2 separate regions of the Homo sapiens genome follow, and region 2 is linked to region 1. A link means that fine-mapping ties the variant in region 1 to the expression of a gene that starts in the linked region. Tissue or cell type: nasal epithelium. Region 1 holds a variant in brackets; the other region holds the start of a gene. All regions are shown on one strand. Distances are from middle to middle.

The links. PIP is the estimated chance that this variant, and not a neighbour inherited with it, causes the effect.
Region 2: it holds the start of CHML, and the variant in region 1 is fine-mapped to the expression of CHML in nasal epithelium (TOPMed, PIP 0.97).

What each region holds. Positions count from the first base shown.
Region 1 is chr1:241,722,459-241,730,567 of GRCh38, reverse strand. It overlaps WDR64 (WD repeat domain 64), which reads right to left. Exons shown (of 28, transcript NM_001367482.1): 10 at 7,132-7,271. The region is part of intron 1 of LOC124904603 (a long non-coding RNA gene); the gene reads left to right. Among named protein-coding and RNA genes, the nearest start is that of WDR64, 74 kb to the right of the region's middle. The variant A/T (reference allele first, on the strand shown) is at 4,297.
Region 2 is chr1:241,636,513-241,644,613 of GRCh38, reverse strand. CHML (CHM like Rab escort protein) reads left to right here and starts at 4,245. Exons shown (of 2, transcript NM_001381853.1): 1 at 4,245-4,732. It overlaps OPN3 (opsin 3), which reads left to right and starts at 4,245. Exons shown (of 4, transcript NM_014322.3): 1 at 4,245-4,732. The coding sequence starts at 4,360. RefSeq lists silencers at 3,916-4,495, 4,826-4,875 and enhancers at 3,978-4,547, 4,548-5,118.

The DNA of each region.
Region 1 (8,109 bases):
CCAGATAGTTACCTTAGGGAGGCTGTAGTGAATATGTGTATGTGTGTGTGCAAGGGGTCTGAAAGCTGGTAGAGGTGTCTAGAGAAAGTCTAGAGGATAAAATAAAGACACTCAGAAACGCAATAAAAATTACAAAGGAAAGAGTCCCAAAGGGCAACAATCACAAACAGCCTGCCTCATCTTAAGCAAATGTGCAATCATAGCTAAGAGCTCCTGGTTATAGAAGTGTGATAGCCACACTCAGAAGGAAGCCTTATATAGGGACTGCTTCCTGGTCTTGGTAGGCATGTTTGCTCCCAGGACTCAGAGCTATCCACAGGGTCTTCCTTTGAAGGTTGTCAAGGAGCTGTCCTGGGTGATGAACTAAAGAAAAAGCAACAAGACCTGCACATAAGCAAAAAGTATTGCAAGTTGAGAACTGAATTCCAAAGCATGTGCCCTCACCCCTTTTTTCTTAGTTTTTATTTTTTCTTCCTAGATGGCCACTCACATTTTATGTTTTATAATACATAGTATATTTGTCTTCCCCAGAAAATTTTCCTACAGTCACTCAGGAAAGTTTTGAAACAAGTCTTACTCTTAAGAATGTTGCAAACAGTTTACTCAAAAGGGAATGTTCCAAGCCACAGAATGAGGACAAAAGGTAGTAAAATATGAAGGCAGTGAAACCAGGTTCTCAATCATGGATGTTTCCAATTATCAAAGAAACAAGAAAAGTATTTGAACTTGCATCATTTATGATAATCCCATACAAACAGAAAGCACAAGGAACTAAAGCAAGGAAAGATTTCAAATTTTTAAAACTTGAAGGTAACATTTTAAAAGGTTAGTTTTTCTATCTCCAGGTTTATTTCAAATTTACACATTTCTCACTCACCAAAAGGAAAAAAAACTCAATTTTTATCTTAGTGAAGGCTTTGGGCATGACATGATATTTCACTTAGATGTAAAGGATATATAGGATGTCTGGGAATGGGAGGAGAATTGTTTCAGACAAAGACGGGAATGCACAAAGCCTTTGGAGAAGAATTTGGTAAGGCTTGGAATTTCTGAAGCCAAACAAAGCTGAAAAGATATTCTTGTTCCAGACCCTAGAGAACCTTAAGAACTAGAAAAAATAATCTGAACTTTATTTGTAAGGCATGAGGGGCCTTTGAATATATGTGAGAAGGCAATGACAAGGTTATAAATGGGTTGGAGGAGGATCAACATGGCAGTACAATATCTGGATGGTTTGGGGAGAGAAGAAACTGAAGATAAGAGGTCTACAAGTGCTTTCTAATGGGCCACCTGCAACTGGGAGCCCCTTGGTGGATGGGTCTGAACTAAGGCCATGACTCTGGGAAGAAGAATGAGGTAATTTACAGGAGACACATTTCAGAGACTTCAAACTGACCAGTGGCAAGGCTTACAGAGATAGAAGGATCAAAGGTGACTTTGAAGTTGGATTATGGCTCTCTGGGAAACAAATGATACCATTAACAGTTAGAGGAAAATCAGAAGTAAGGAAGAGAAGACTTGAAGTAGAAAATAAATTCAGTTTTAGGTAGGCAGAATTTTTTTTAAAGATAACTGCCTTTGAAGATATGCACACTCACAATCTAGTCAAACTGCCTTTTCTCAGGTTTCTACATACCACTTCCAAAGTGAAAATGTACGAAAATTAGCAACTTTTACATACATTTGTAATCTGTTATAAATCATCAAAGTATGTAAATTTCTCCCCTTCATAGAAAAAAAAAAAGAAGAAGAGAATCAGCCTTTTGGTCAATAGAACTGTGCTTGAGAAGGTTTCCAACCATTGCTCCCATTGGTTTTGCTGATGAAATGAAAGTAAGTGAAGATTATATTTGTCTCTGCATTTTTCAACATTCGTCAGTTCTTCTTCAGGTGTAATAGATGTGGCACATCTGTTCAATACTTGGGCTCTGTGACTAGACATACAATTTTAGCAGTTGGGGAAGAAAGTAATATCCTGGTGGAAAGACTGCAAAATTAGGAGAAAGAATAAAAATCTTGCTATTTTAAGAGCTTAGGAAAAGGCATGTAGTGGGCACACAACTATGCATGGCGATTTATATGCTTTCTGCTTAATGTGATGAAAGCTAATTTATATGAAAGAGTTTGAAGGGATGTTGTCTGTTCCCTTTTCTGTAAATAATAATATAGCTTCAATAAAAAAACCAAAAACATGTATGTGCCTAGTTTGCTTTTTTTTTCTTCTTCTTCTTTTCTGAGACTGAGTCTCGCTCTATTGCCCAGGCTGGAGTGCAGTGGTGCAATCTCGGCTCTCTGCAACCTCCACCTCCCAGGTTCAAGCGATTCTCCTGCCTCAGCCTCCCAAGTAGCTGGGGTTACAGGTGCCTACCACCATGCCAGGCTAATTTTTGTAGTTTTAGTAGTGACAGGGTTCCACCATGTTGGCCAGGCTGATCTCGAACTCCTAACCTCAAATAATCCACCCACCTCAGCCTCCCAAAGTGCTGGGATTACAGGCATGAACTGCGGCACCCAGCCCAGTTTGCTCTTCTTTCTGCCTAAATTGCCCTTTTCCTTTTCCTAGATCTTCACGGGGCTGGTTCCCCTGATCATTCAGGCTTCAGCTTTTATGTCACCTCCTCAGAGGTGAGATTCAATCACACTGCACCACTATGTTTTCTATTTCTTTTCTTCTTCTTTTTCTTTGTTTTTGTAGAGATGGGGTCTTGCTATTTTGCCTAGGCTGGTTTTGAACTCCTGGCCTCAAGCAATCCTCCTGGCTCAACCTCCCAAAGTGCTGGGATTACAGGTTTGAGCCATTACACCCAGCCCTGTGTTTCCTATTTCTTACCATACTTATCATACTGTTTTCTTATGTACTTGTTACTTTGCTTGTTTGTCTGTCTCTTCCCCTAGCATGTCAACTTTCTCATTGCAGGGCCCTGGTCCTCCTTGTTCAATGCTTTGTCCCTAGAACTCAGAACTCAGAACAGTATCTAACACAATAGACACTCAATAAATAAATAAGTATTTGTTAAATAACCAAATGAATGACCTCCTTTCATCTTTATAATGGCCCTCTGGGCTAAACATTCCTACATTTACAGATGAAGAAACCAAATGGAAAGATATTAAGTAATTTTCCCAAGTGGTGCTACTGAGATGCATGAATGAGTATCATCTTAATACACTCATTACATTTAAAAGAAATAGGAAAGATTCTCTCTTCTGTCTCTTCATCTCTGAGCATGAATGATCTCAACTTTTGCTAGAAAGATATCTTATTTCTCTTTAAATTATCTGTAGGAGACTCCAGGTCTCAATCGTAACATGTTTTTAGTTTTAGTGTCTCAAAACCTTCACTGTCTTTCCAGTACTACTTAAAAAAATTAAAATTTCCTAAGCTGGGCACGGTGGCTCACACCTGTAATCCCAGCACTTTGGGAGGCTGAGGCAGGTGGATAACCTGAGGTCAGGAGTTCAAGACCAGCCTGGACAACATGACGAAACCCTGTCTCTACTAAAAATACAAAAATGAGCTGGGCATGGTGGCAGGAGCCTGTAATCCCAGCTACTTGGGAGGCTGAGGCAGGAGAATAGCTTGAACCTGGGAGGCAGAGGTTGCAGTGAGCTGAGATGGTGCCATTGCACTCCAGCCTGGACAACAAGAATGAAACTTCGTCTCAAAAAAAAAAACTTTGTCCTTATTACAAAGTAATGTATATTTACTATTTAAAAAAACAAAGAGAAAACAAAAGAAAAAAATCCATCCATGTATATCCACAATCTTGTTAGCCTCACTAAAACATCTTGCTATTAATCATTTCCAATAACATATGATAGACACGTTATGTTTTAAAATTGATTTAAAATTGATTACTTACATATTATTGTATTTTATATATTATTTAGATATTTTCATATGACTATTCATTTACATAATGTTGAATGTCTATGTGATATTTCTATTGTATATGAGGATACAGCATAATTTACTTAATCAAAGCCTTTTTTTCCTCTTGAATTTTACTTTATTGGTACATCACCCTAATTATCTCTCTTTTTCAACTGCAATATTGAAGTGTAATCTACTTACCTTAAAACTCACCCGCTTTTAGTGTAAGGTTCTGTGAGTTTTAGTCAATTTAAATAGTTGTGCAACCATTATCATAATCTCTTTTTTTAAAGATGGTGTCTCACTATGTTGCCCAGGCTGGTCTTGAACTCCTGGGCTCAAGCGATCCTCCCACCTTGACCTCCCAAAGTGCCAGGATTACAAGCATGAGCCACTACATGCAGTCCCTTGCTCTTTTTTTA[A/T]AAATTAATTTTATTAATGTATTTTTTAACCCTATATAGCCAAATTATTATCACCTCAATATATAATCAATATAAAAACGATTGGCCCAGTGCCATGGCTCAGGCCTATACTAGTGCTTTGAGGCAGGAGGCTCACTTGAGCCCAGAAGTTCGGGCAACATAGCAAGACCCCATCTCTACCAAAAATTTAAAAATTAGCAAATTAGACAGACCTAAAAAAAAAAAAAGAGAGCTCTCTACAAAAAATAAAAATAATTAGCTTCGTACGGTGGCCCCCACCTGTAGTCCCAGCTACTGGGGAGGCTGAGGTGGGAGGATCCCTCGAGCCCAGTAGGTCAAGACAGCAGAGAGCCCCGAGGCTGCAATGAGCCCCATTGCACCATGCCATTGTACTCTAGCCCGGACGACAGAGCAAGATCCTGTCTCAAAAAATTGAGAGTTTTTTTTTTGGAGTGGGGGGATAGTGAATCTTTGGAGTCTTGTGTATTTTACACTCACAGCGGACCTCAATTCGGACTAGCCATGTTTTAAAAATTTGTGGCTACCATATTGGCAGGTGAGGGCTGCTGGCCTGCTGGGGAATCCTGCAGGTCAGGTCACGTCCTCAGTTGTGAACTGGAGGAGGCAGGTGCCGGGTGCATTTTCCTCTCTAGCCTGGGAGGAACCCCTCAAAGGTCCTTAGAGTCTTTCCCTTGTGGTTGCACATGGCAAGCATGGGCTCCAGGGAGATTCGCATAGTTCCGTGAGCATGGAGGGAACGACTGGGCCTTGGAGATCCCGATTGCTTCCATCGAAGGGTTTTGCATCGGGTAGAGGGTGTATGAGGGGTAGGGGGTGTACGAGGAGGGAGGTGCGGGGCTGGGGGACGTGGAGGGAAAGCAACCGGGTTTTTTTCTTTCCCTTCCCTTCCCTCTTTCATTTCCTTTCTGTATTTCCTGTTTCCTCCCTATTTTCTTGTTTTTCTTTTTTCCTTCTTAAATCAATATAAGCAATAGTGCATTGAGCATCCTTTAATACAGATCTTTGCACACTCATCTAGCTATTTTATTAGAACAAATACGCAGGAAGTTTTTGCCAGTTTTATTTCCACCCAGCAGTATGTAAACCTGTCTGTGTTCTTAAACCTTTGCCCTTCACTCCACTTTCTTTCCCCTACTGACTTGCTAAAGATTTTTGGTATTTGTTCAAGGATATTTTTCCAATTTCTCTGCTTTTTATTGCATTTTTGCCCCCTGCCCCTGCTGTCTGCCTTTAACTTTGTTTATGAGTATAGGGAGGCAGGCTGAGGAAGGGCAAATATGGGATTGACCACACTTCGGCACTAGATAGCTCTGTGACCTTGTGTAAGTGATTTAGATGTCATTTTCCCTGACGTGTGTAAAATGGGGAGAATTACTTTATAGGGTTGTTATTAGCATCAATGAGTTGCATATGTAAAATACTTAGCACAGCGCCTGGCACTTAAGCACTCAATAAATGGTAGTTATTATAATTTACAGAAAGTTTGAATGTTTATTTAGTCATATTTACTTTCTCCTTAGTCATAGGTGCTATGCTTAGGAATTACCCAAAAGTTATAAGACTATTCACCTATATTTTCTTCTGGAAATCTAGAATTTCTATGGTTTTGTATTTTAAATTTAAAATCTTTAATTCATATGTAATGTATTGTGCTGTATATTATGAAATCATGATCTGATTACATCTTTCTTTCTTTATGGCTAATCAGTTTTCCCAACACTTATTGAACAAACCATCCTTTGCTCACATATTTGAAACATTATTTCTGTCCTATACAAAATTCCCACATAGACATAAACTAATTCCTGCATTTTCTCCTTTGCTTCATAGATGTGATTATTTCTGCATTGACTATTGCTCTGTTTTATTTATTTTGGCTTTATGATATGCTTTAATATTGGACAGGGAAAGTGCCATCTCATAATTATATCTTCCAAAGTTTCTAGGATATTCCTATATACCAGTATTTTTACATTAACTTTAAACTTGGCAAGCTGACACTTAAGTAATTCTGACTAGCAATAAATAAATATATTAAACTGATGGAGAATATCTTACAGCACAATATTTCCATGTAGGAACATAGTATGTCCCTTAATTTGTGTTCTTAAACACAGTAAAACTTCATAGTTATCTTAATGTTAGTAGTGAATATTGCCTGTTAAGTTTATTCCTAATATTGCATATTTTTTACTCTTGTGAATGCTATCTCTTTGACCTTTTTTCCTCACTAATTATTGTTCTTATATAGACATTTATTTATTTATTTCCTTATTTATTTTTTAGAAATTTTTATTTTATCTTATTTTTAGGTTGCCATTGCAACTAGCCACCTTATGGAATTTATCTATTCCTACACTGAAAGTTGATTGTATTGATCTCTTTTCAAGCAGGTAATCCCATTATTTGCAAATATAATTCAGTCTCTGAATTCTAATATTTATAACTTTTTTTTTGTTTTATTACATTGGTTAGAATGTTTCAAACACTGTTTAATAACAGAAATCCTCATTTTTTTCCTAATGTTCCTATCTATTGAAAGGCCCCTTATGTTTTACTTTTGAGGGTAAAATTTGCCATCTTTTCAATATTGTTTTTCTTTTACACTTGTTTTTAAACGTGTTCTTACTTATGCTATAATCAATAGAAAGAGAGAACATTGGCTTATCATTTCCTTTTCCATACTGACAATATTTTTCTCAATGATTCAATGACTATCATTTATTTCAGTCAAAAATTGTATCATCCCTATGCCTTCCAACAGATAATTTTCCGGAAAAAACTAGTTTTGTTTTGTTATTTTCTTTTTGTTACCTTTGCAGAGGAAAGGCTGACGACATGTTGATCTTTTTCATTGGTTACGATCTCGGCGATACTGAACATGTGTCCTACAAGTTTCCCTACTGGCTTGGTGCTGATATTGGGGTGCCACAACCGGATGACCTTATCATCTCCTGAAAAGGAGGACAGGGAAAGATTGTTGGTTTTCTGAGGTGGTCAGAGTTTCAAATGTATCTCTCACTGTATCATACCCGTATCTTTCTTCGAACAGCAAATCACAGTCCGTTTCTGGCAGGATGCATTATTCTGTGATTGATGTGCTAAGGGGCTGGCCTTGGTTTGGATCTGCTGCTTCTTGTGAAGGCTGTTTTGTAAAGACTGTATTTACATACACAAATGTGAATTCTCATAAATATTTTATGAGTTCTTTTCTTGACTCAATCCTTTCCTATACTTTGATGCATTAATGTATTATTTATACTTTATTTACTTCCAAAGATATTTAAGGCAGCTGTTCTTTTGTTTTCATTCTTAAATTATGCAAACATTATAATAATGAAAGAAATCAAGGACAGAGGAAACTGCACTTAATCTTCACCATTATAACAAATCAACTGTTGTCATTTTTCCGTCTTCCCTTCTAGCATGTATTCATAGGCATATATAATTTATGTGTAGTTACTACCATAGAATAAATATGGTTTTTTAATTGCTAAAAATCATAGAAGGGCATAATTTTTATAAAAATGTCTTTTCCTCCATAATCTCTAACTCCCTGTGGGAAATCACTGTTAACTTTTTAAAAATATAAATTAGATATATTTCTAGATACATATTTATACCCACTACTTTTTTTTATTTAGGAAAGGCCACGAGCTCATGCCCGCATAATTATCCTTTTAGTTACTATTTCAGAATTTCTTAACCCCTTGTCCATTGATTAGTCCACTAATTCTAGTTTTTTACTTTATTCAGCAATACTGCAACGAATGGTTATTGTACTTCTGTGGT
Region 2 (8,101 bases), 86 kb after region 1:
CATATGGCAATTTTTTTTGTTTTGAGACAGGGTCTCACTCTCTTGCCCAGGGTGGAGCGCAGTGACACGATCACAGCTCACTGCAACCTCAAACTCCTGGGCTCAAGGGATCCTTCTGCCTCAGCCTCCTGAATAGTTGGGTGAGACTACAGGTATGTGCCACCACACCCAGCTAATTTTTTATTTTTTTCTGAAGAGATGGGGTCTTACTATGTTGCCCAGGCTGGTCATTGTACTCTTGGCCTCAAGTGATCATCCTGCTTAAGCTTCCCAAAGCACTGGGATTACAGGAATGAGCTCACAATAATTCTATGTTTAACTTTTTGTGGAACTACCAAATTGTCTTCCACAGGAGCCACACCATTTCACATTCCCATCAGCAGTACGACAGGGTTCTAATTTCTACACATCTCCACACAAAAACCAACACTTGTTTTTGTGTTTTGTTTTGTTTTTTGATGATAGCCCTTCTAGTAGGTGTGAAGTGGTATGTCATTGTGGCTTTGATTTGCATTTCCCTAATGACTAATCACAGTAAGTTTCCTTCCATGTGCTTTTAGGCCATTAGTATATTTTTGGAGTAATGTCTACTCAGATCCTTTGCCTATTTCTGAATTGGGTTGTGTGGAGTTTTTTGTTGTTGAGTTGTAGGGGGTCTTTATAATATTGATGCCTTATCAGATATATGACTTGCAAGTATTTCTCCCATTTGCTGTGCTGTCTTTTCACTCTTTTGATAGTGCCCTTTGATGCATAACAGTTTTTAATTTTGATAAAGTCCAATTTAGCTATTTTTCTCCTGTTGCCTGTGCTTTTGGTGTCATACCCAAGAAGTTTTCTTCTAAAAGTTTTATAGTTTTAGCTTTTACATATAGGTCTCCAATCAATTTTGAGTTAATTTTTATATATGATATAATGTAAGGCTCCAACTTCATTCATTTGCACATGGATATGCAGTTTTCCCAGCATCATTTGTTGAAAAGACTGTCCTTTCCTCCTTTCCCCATTGAATGGCCTTGGCATCCTTGTCAAAAATCAATGGACCATATATGTAAGAGTTTATATCTTGGCTCTCTATTCTATTCCATTGGTCTACATGTTTGTCCTTATGCTGTGTATTAGGCTGTTCTTGCACTGCTGTAAATACCTGAGACTGGGTAATTTATAAAGAAAAGCGATTTAATTGGCTCACAGTTCTGCAGGCTGTACAGGAAGCATGGTGTTGGCATCTACTCAGCTTCTGGGGAGGCCTCAGGGAGCTTTTACTCATGGTGGAAGGCAAAGTGAGAGCAGGCATCTCACATGGCGACAACCAGATAGGGAGAGAGAGAGAGAGAGAGTGGGATGGCGGAGTTGCCACACACTTTTAGATGACCAGAGCTCACTTATCACAAAGGGGATGGCCCAGGCCATTCATGAGGGATCCGCCCCCTATGACCAAAACACCTACCACTAGGACCCACCTCTAATATTGGGGATTATATTTCAACATGAGATTTGGGTGGGGACAAACATCCAAACTATATCATGCTGGTGTTTTTCATTTGTTTGTTTTTTGTTTTTTTTTTTAATAAAAGATTGTAGTGTTCTGCCATTATCCTGTCATTACATAATTCTAAAATTAAAAAAGAAACATATATCCTTATCATTGCCTGTTTCTGTCAAGCTCAATAAATGTCCTTAATGGTTCATAGTATTGTAAAATTACTGTGTCAAAAATGCTTAAGCATTTGTCAAAGGCCTCTTACTCCTCCTTTGCATTCACTGCTAGTAGGCATTGCCCTGGACTTTACTCTGATTGAGTAAAAGCCAAAGTCCTTTTATTGAAATGGCCAAGGTCCTGCATATTCTGGCCATTCACTGCACACCCACCTGACTGGCTGCATTTCCCGATTCTCATTCTTGCTTCCTTATTGTTCCTCCAACATACCAATACAGTACTCCTGCCCATAACCACCTTGTCTAAATAACAACCTTGACAGAGCAGGTGCATCACCATCATGGACAAGCACTGCCATTTTAAAGTTCCCCTTGATCAAAAACCACCTAAATCCAAACAGCATCAGCCTAATGGCTAAGGTCAGCATGACCATACACCACAAATGACATCTCCGACCAGAAACATTCCAACCCTAAGATAAACCCCTCCCTGACCAGAGACATGCGAGCCCCGAGATAACCTCCCCTCCGACAGAGACATTCCAACTTGGCAATAAACTTCTTCTCCAAACAGAAACATTCCACGCCTGTGATAAGCTCTCTCACTCTAAAATCCTTAAATACTCTTAGTCTGTAAGAGAGTGCTCCTGACCGAAATCGGCCAGAAGCCCCTCTTAGGTTTATTCTTCCAAATAACACTGTCTGACTGTTGAGCTGCTATTAGTGTTTCTTTCCTCTTTCTTTAACTCTTACAAACTCCTTGCCCCATCTCCCATAGCTCCTGGCTCAACCTCCTGAGTAGCTGGGACCACAGACATGTACCATCTTGCCTGGCTAATTTTCTATTTTTTGAAGAGTTAGGGGGCAGTTCTCACTTTGTTGCCCAGGCTGGTCTTGAACTCCTGGGCTTAAGAAATCCTACTGCCTCGGCCTCCCAAAGTGCTGGGGTTACAGGAATGAGCCACCACGCCTGACCCCTATTTCTTCATGGCATTTGTCAGTGGCTGACACCCTACGTATTTATCTAATTTTTGTTTGTTCTCCCAACACGACTGGAATGTGAGCTTTATAAGGGCAATGACTCAGCAATGAAGAATGAATAGGAAAAAATATAGCGAGTTCTTTATTCATTCATTCAAATTACTATTTATTGAGAACTTACTGTAGACTAGACACAGAAAACACTTTCGACATTAAACATATAGAACTTGTTAAATAGTTATGTTTTGTTCAGTGGTTGTACAAATCTAAAATTAACAATTAAAAGTGTGTGTGTGTTTTTTAAGGGGTGGGTGGGTAGGAAGTCTCACAGATGGCGAGTCCAGAGCAGAAGCCTTGAAGGAAAATCAAGGTGTCAAAGGCAGAGCACACTGCCCCTTAGCTATTGCTCAGTGCACCAGGGTGGAGAGCTGCTGCCAGCCTATTAGATCCTCTCTCCAGGGAATTCAGAATGTGGATTGATCCAAGCTAGTCATTCCCTACTGATCTTTCAAACAGAGGTGAGGCACGCCCGTATGGAGAGCAGTTTCTTTAGCTTGCACAAACCCTGTGTTCGTCACCAGTGTCCAGGACAGGCTGCAGGTGTGGCTGGGGACTGTGATCTTCTTGTAGGGCCTCCTTAGGGATTGTGCAACCACAAAGGCAGAAGCAGCTCTTGCAGAGTGTGATGACGTTCACAACCTATATTTGACTTGTACTATATTCTCATCACTACAGGAGAAGAGGCCCAATGGGAAATGTGTGCTGTTCTAAATATAGCACCTGCCTCCTATACCTGCTAGATTTAGGTTGAATCTTTCACTGCCTGTGAAGGACTTTAGCAGGCCTCAGTGACCGGAAAGATCTACCCACGCTTTCAAGCACAGGAAGGACGGTATTGGAAGGCCTTGGGGTCCAGCCCAGGGCTTAAAGTCAGTTCCATTGGAATGCCATTTTCAGAGAGTTTTCATCCCAGACTCTCCAAGGGTGGCAGGCTCTTGTATCAGCCCTGGGACATGTGTCCTCTAGCAGTCAGGTAGTTAGGCAGGCACCTGTCTATCAATTTGTTGTTTTTCTTCTCAGTTTTCCGGTAAGACTACCCCGAGCTCTTCAATGTTTTCTTTGCTTTTGTTTACATTGAGTGTATGACGCGGGATGGGCTTCGTAGGCTGGTTGTGGGTTATTACAGCTTCCCAGGAAGGGGAGAAACCCAATTCTTGCCAGCACGTGGTGGGCGCAGGCGCTCATAAATACTTAGGAATAAATGAATGTATAAGTGAGTGCATGAATGGGTGAGTGGACACGAAGCTTTCAAGGTGGGTGCAGGGAGGTGGGGGTGTGAAGAGCCATCGAGGCTACCCTGCGGCCCTGGCCCCCAGGCTATCCCGCGACGCGCGTCCACGCCGACCAGCGGAAGGTGCCCAGCCAGTGGGGGCGGGGCGAGCTAGCCGCGAGGACGCGCCCGCGGGGGGGCGGGGCTAAGAGGACGCGCCGGGAGCAGCGGAGCGACGAGGACAGGCCGCGGGGAGGGGCGGGGCCACGGGGGGTGCGCCGGGCGGAAGGGGCGGGAAGAGGGCGGGCCCGGCGCGCGGTAGCGCGGGCCCCTCAGTGCACAATGGCTAGAGCAGGCGGCGGAGCCCCAACCCCACCCAGTGCGGAGCGCGCCGCGAGCCCCGCCGCAAGCTGAGCGCCTCCGCCCGCCAGGCGCGCCGGCGCCGGGCCATGTACTCGGGGAACCGCAGCGGCGGCCACGGCTACTGGGACGGCGGCGGGGCCGCGGGCGCTGAGGGGCCGGCGCCGGCGGGGACACTGAGCCCCGCGCCCCTCTTCAGCCCCGGCACCTACGAGCGCCTGGCGCTGCTGCTGGGCTCCATTGGGCTGCTGGGCGTCGGCAACAACCTGCTGGTGCTCGTCCTCTACTACAAGTTCCAGCGGCTCCGCACTCCCACTCACCTCCTCCTGGTCAACATCAGCCTCAGCGACCTGCTGGTGTCCCTCTTCGGGGTCACCTTTACCTTCGTGTCCTGCCTGAGGAACGGCTGGGTGTGGGACACCGTGGGCTGCGTGTGGGACGGGTTTAGCGGCAGCCTCTTCGGTGAGTTGGACTGGGAGAAGGCAGCCTCCCCTCTGCAAACTTCCACTCCCCACCCCGCTGCCCGCTCCGTGCGTCCGCCCCCCAGCCCGCCCCGCACCGCTTCCCGCTCGGCCCCGCGCCCCCCGCCCTACACCGCCCCGCTCCCCGCTCGCCTCCTCAACGCTGCCCGACCCCAGCCGCATGGCGGGTGCCTTCCTCTTCCTCCGTCCCCTCCCGCCCCACGCTGTCCAGGACTCCATTCCTGTGGTCTCTCATCTGCCCCCCACGTTGACCCCAAACCCCGGCCCGCCTCCTTTCTTATTTGTTTTTACCTCCTAAGATCACTCAACAAGGCACGAAACCACGGCTTTTTACACTTTGAGGAAAGAGACGAGGGCCTGTAGAGTCAAGAGATTCAAGAAAAAAAGTGATTAACTCGTGAAAGTTGGAGGGAGTGATGAGATTAGATTCATGTACTACTATTTGTTTCCTAAAATGAGAGTAGAAAACCAAAATAACAATGTGTAAAAAAAAATTCTCATTAGTACTTGTAAACCTTTGAATGCTTTCTAGGGAATGAGACAGTTTCATTCAGGTCCTCAGAATGCAAATTGGCATGTGCCCTGTAAGCTGTTTTTACTATTTTCCGTCTTATAGATGGGTTCCAGCACACCAGAATCTTGGGTGAGATTACAAATGGCTCAGCCAATACCATCTCAGGTGAACAAATACTGTAATTAGCTCTGCAATCGGTAGATTTCATTAAAGTAGAACTTCATTGTTGAAGATGTATTTCGACAGTACTCTTATTATGGAAGATTTAAGTTTCACTGAGACATGATGTTTTGAAGGATGATCAACAACTCAGCAAATCATTGAAGGAAGCGTAGAAAGGAAATTATTTTTTTGTGTGCCTCAGGAATTTCATTTGTAGGGAGATTTGAAATAGAAATGTGTATTTCTCAAGGCTTAAAGTTCCTTTTTTAAATCCTGAAATCCATTGATACTTTATTGCTTTAATCTTGGTAGGTTTGGGAGAACAAAAATCTTTGTAGAATTATCAAAAATATTTTCTTATTCAGTAACCTCTATGCTATGACAAACCCAAATATTATATTTGTAATGATTCATTTTTTGGCGTTTTGAAGGAAATAAGAAAATAGATTTTATTTGATTGCTTCAGAGGTTATAATATTTTCCTCCCCGCCCCTCATAAGCTTTAATCTGATAATTTCATTTGAACAAACATTTGAAATTTAGGGAGGGGACTGCAAGTGTATGTAGGCTGTGGTATGGACGACTATGGGATTACACTCCTTATATTAATTGTAAAATACCTATCAGGCAGTTTCTTCGGCAATGCTAAGAAGGTTATTCAAGCCCAAGCCTAAAGTATCATCAGTAGTGTTCTCCAGGGTAGTCAACAGGTGTTTGTTCACAGACATCAAAGTTCTTTTTTCCTTGAAGTGCCTTTTCTGTGCTGGAAAATTCTGTTTTCGTGCCCGGGAGTTTGAACACAAGGGTGTACTGAGTTCTTTATAAGTGCTAGCTGTCATCCACCCTCTTCCTCACCTCTTTCCTCTGCTGATCCCACCCTCCTGTGTCTCCTGGTCACTTCTCCCTTCCTGTTTTTCTTCTTCACCATCCCTCCTAGGGTCCCAGCCCAGTGATTTTCTAAGTTCACTTAGATTTTTGCCTGAGGGCTGCCCTATTTTTCAGGGCATTTAGTGCTTTCAACCATGACTTTCTCCCTGTTTTTAATGTAGAGGTGGAAACCCTGAGATAAGAGATTCCGAGACTTAAGCCCTGGGGGGCAAGTTAGTAGTGAAGTTACTATAGAGTTTAAAAAGTTTTTAGCGAAGATGATTTCTTTGCCTGGAGTAAATTCCGGAGTTTGTGCTTCTAGATCCAGGTTAAGGATGAAGAAAAGGAGGGCACTTCCTGAGTTATCCCTGAGCAAGAACTACCTAACAGTGGAGTATTGAAGGGGAGGAAGTTAAAAATGAGGGAAGTAGCTTCTTGATGCAGAGGCTTTTGGAGAGGCTTGCCCTATCTGTTGGAAAGACCATTGGTCTGATGGCACAAGAGTGGATCCTGTTCCTTATCCTGCGACTCATGCATTGTGCGGGCTTTCTCAAGTCACTTAATCTCTCCAGCTATCAGTTCTCTCATCTCTATTATTGGGTAATTCAGCTTAATGCTCTGTAAGGCCATCCTACTTGCTTTGCATTTTGATGACCCCTTTGATATCTGTAGGTTAGAACGTGCCTGATCTTAGCGCTTATTGATTGTGTCTTCTGCTCCTACTCCTACCCTGAGCCCTGTCTTTCTAAGCCAAGAAGCAGCATGTACTATGGTTACACCTCTTCAGATACCATCATAGATTCAGTCTCCATCTTCACACCCTGCTGGAAGAAGCAGAATAAGTAATTCAGACATACTTATATTTATACTTGAGTGGGCCAGGCAACTGCTGCATTCTGTACTTAGTTCCTGGCTTCTTAGGGAATGCCAAAAATGAGTGGAATCCTTGATATTTTTGAGACAGAGGCTTTGACTAGACAGGACTGTTAGGATTGCCATTTTAGTTAAACTAAAGGTGTGTGCCCTATGCAATTTAATCTAAGTTCCAATTGAATGGCTTGTTTTTCCAGTATCCAGGATTATTAGTCATCTTGGGCTAGACAGGTACAGCTTGTACTGATTTATATTTCAGTAGGTTTAACAGTAGTGAAAACCAGAGCTCAAAACTGTGCAATGATGAATATTAGAAAGTTTAGCAGTATTGTTGCTTTAGCCTAAAGACTTTCAGGTGAGTATGCTCTTCAGCACCTTGGCCTTTCTACCTCTGGCCACACAGGGCATCACACAGATGTCTTCCGCACATGGAATGTAACCAGCATTATGCTCAAAGTTAACAGGAGAACCTTATTATTTTTTTTTTTTTAAACTTCCCCTTCAAAAATAAGAACAAACAGTGTTAGTCTTGGCAGAGGATGTTTAGATAGACCTTTTGCTTGGGATGCAGAGATTCAGGGTTGCAGAGACAGTGGCGAAATGCAAACATCACTGTATTCAAATGTTAGAAGTAGGTATTATTTATGTTAAGATATTTTAATATGAAATCAGAAGTTTTCCTTTTTTACTTACACTTACACACTTTTTTCCTTTATTACTTATATGCATGTGTACATTCATATAATATTTTTAATACATTTTCCTCCTCAGGGCTATTATGAGCCTAAATATTTTTAAATGGCCAGTTGTTTTACTGAATTAATCCTTTTGTAATAATCTGACTAGTAATTGAGTAGAAATAGTCTCATGTTGCTACCATGAGATCCTAAGGGTGGTTGTGGCATGGAAAGGTCTTATATTCAGCTGTTCTGG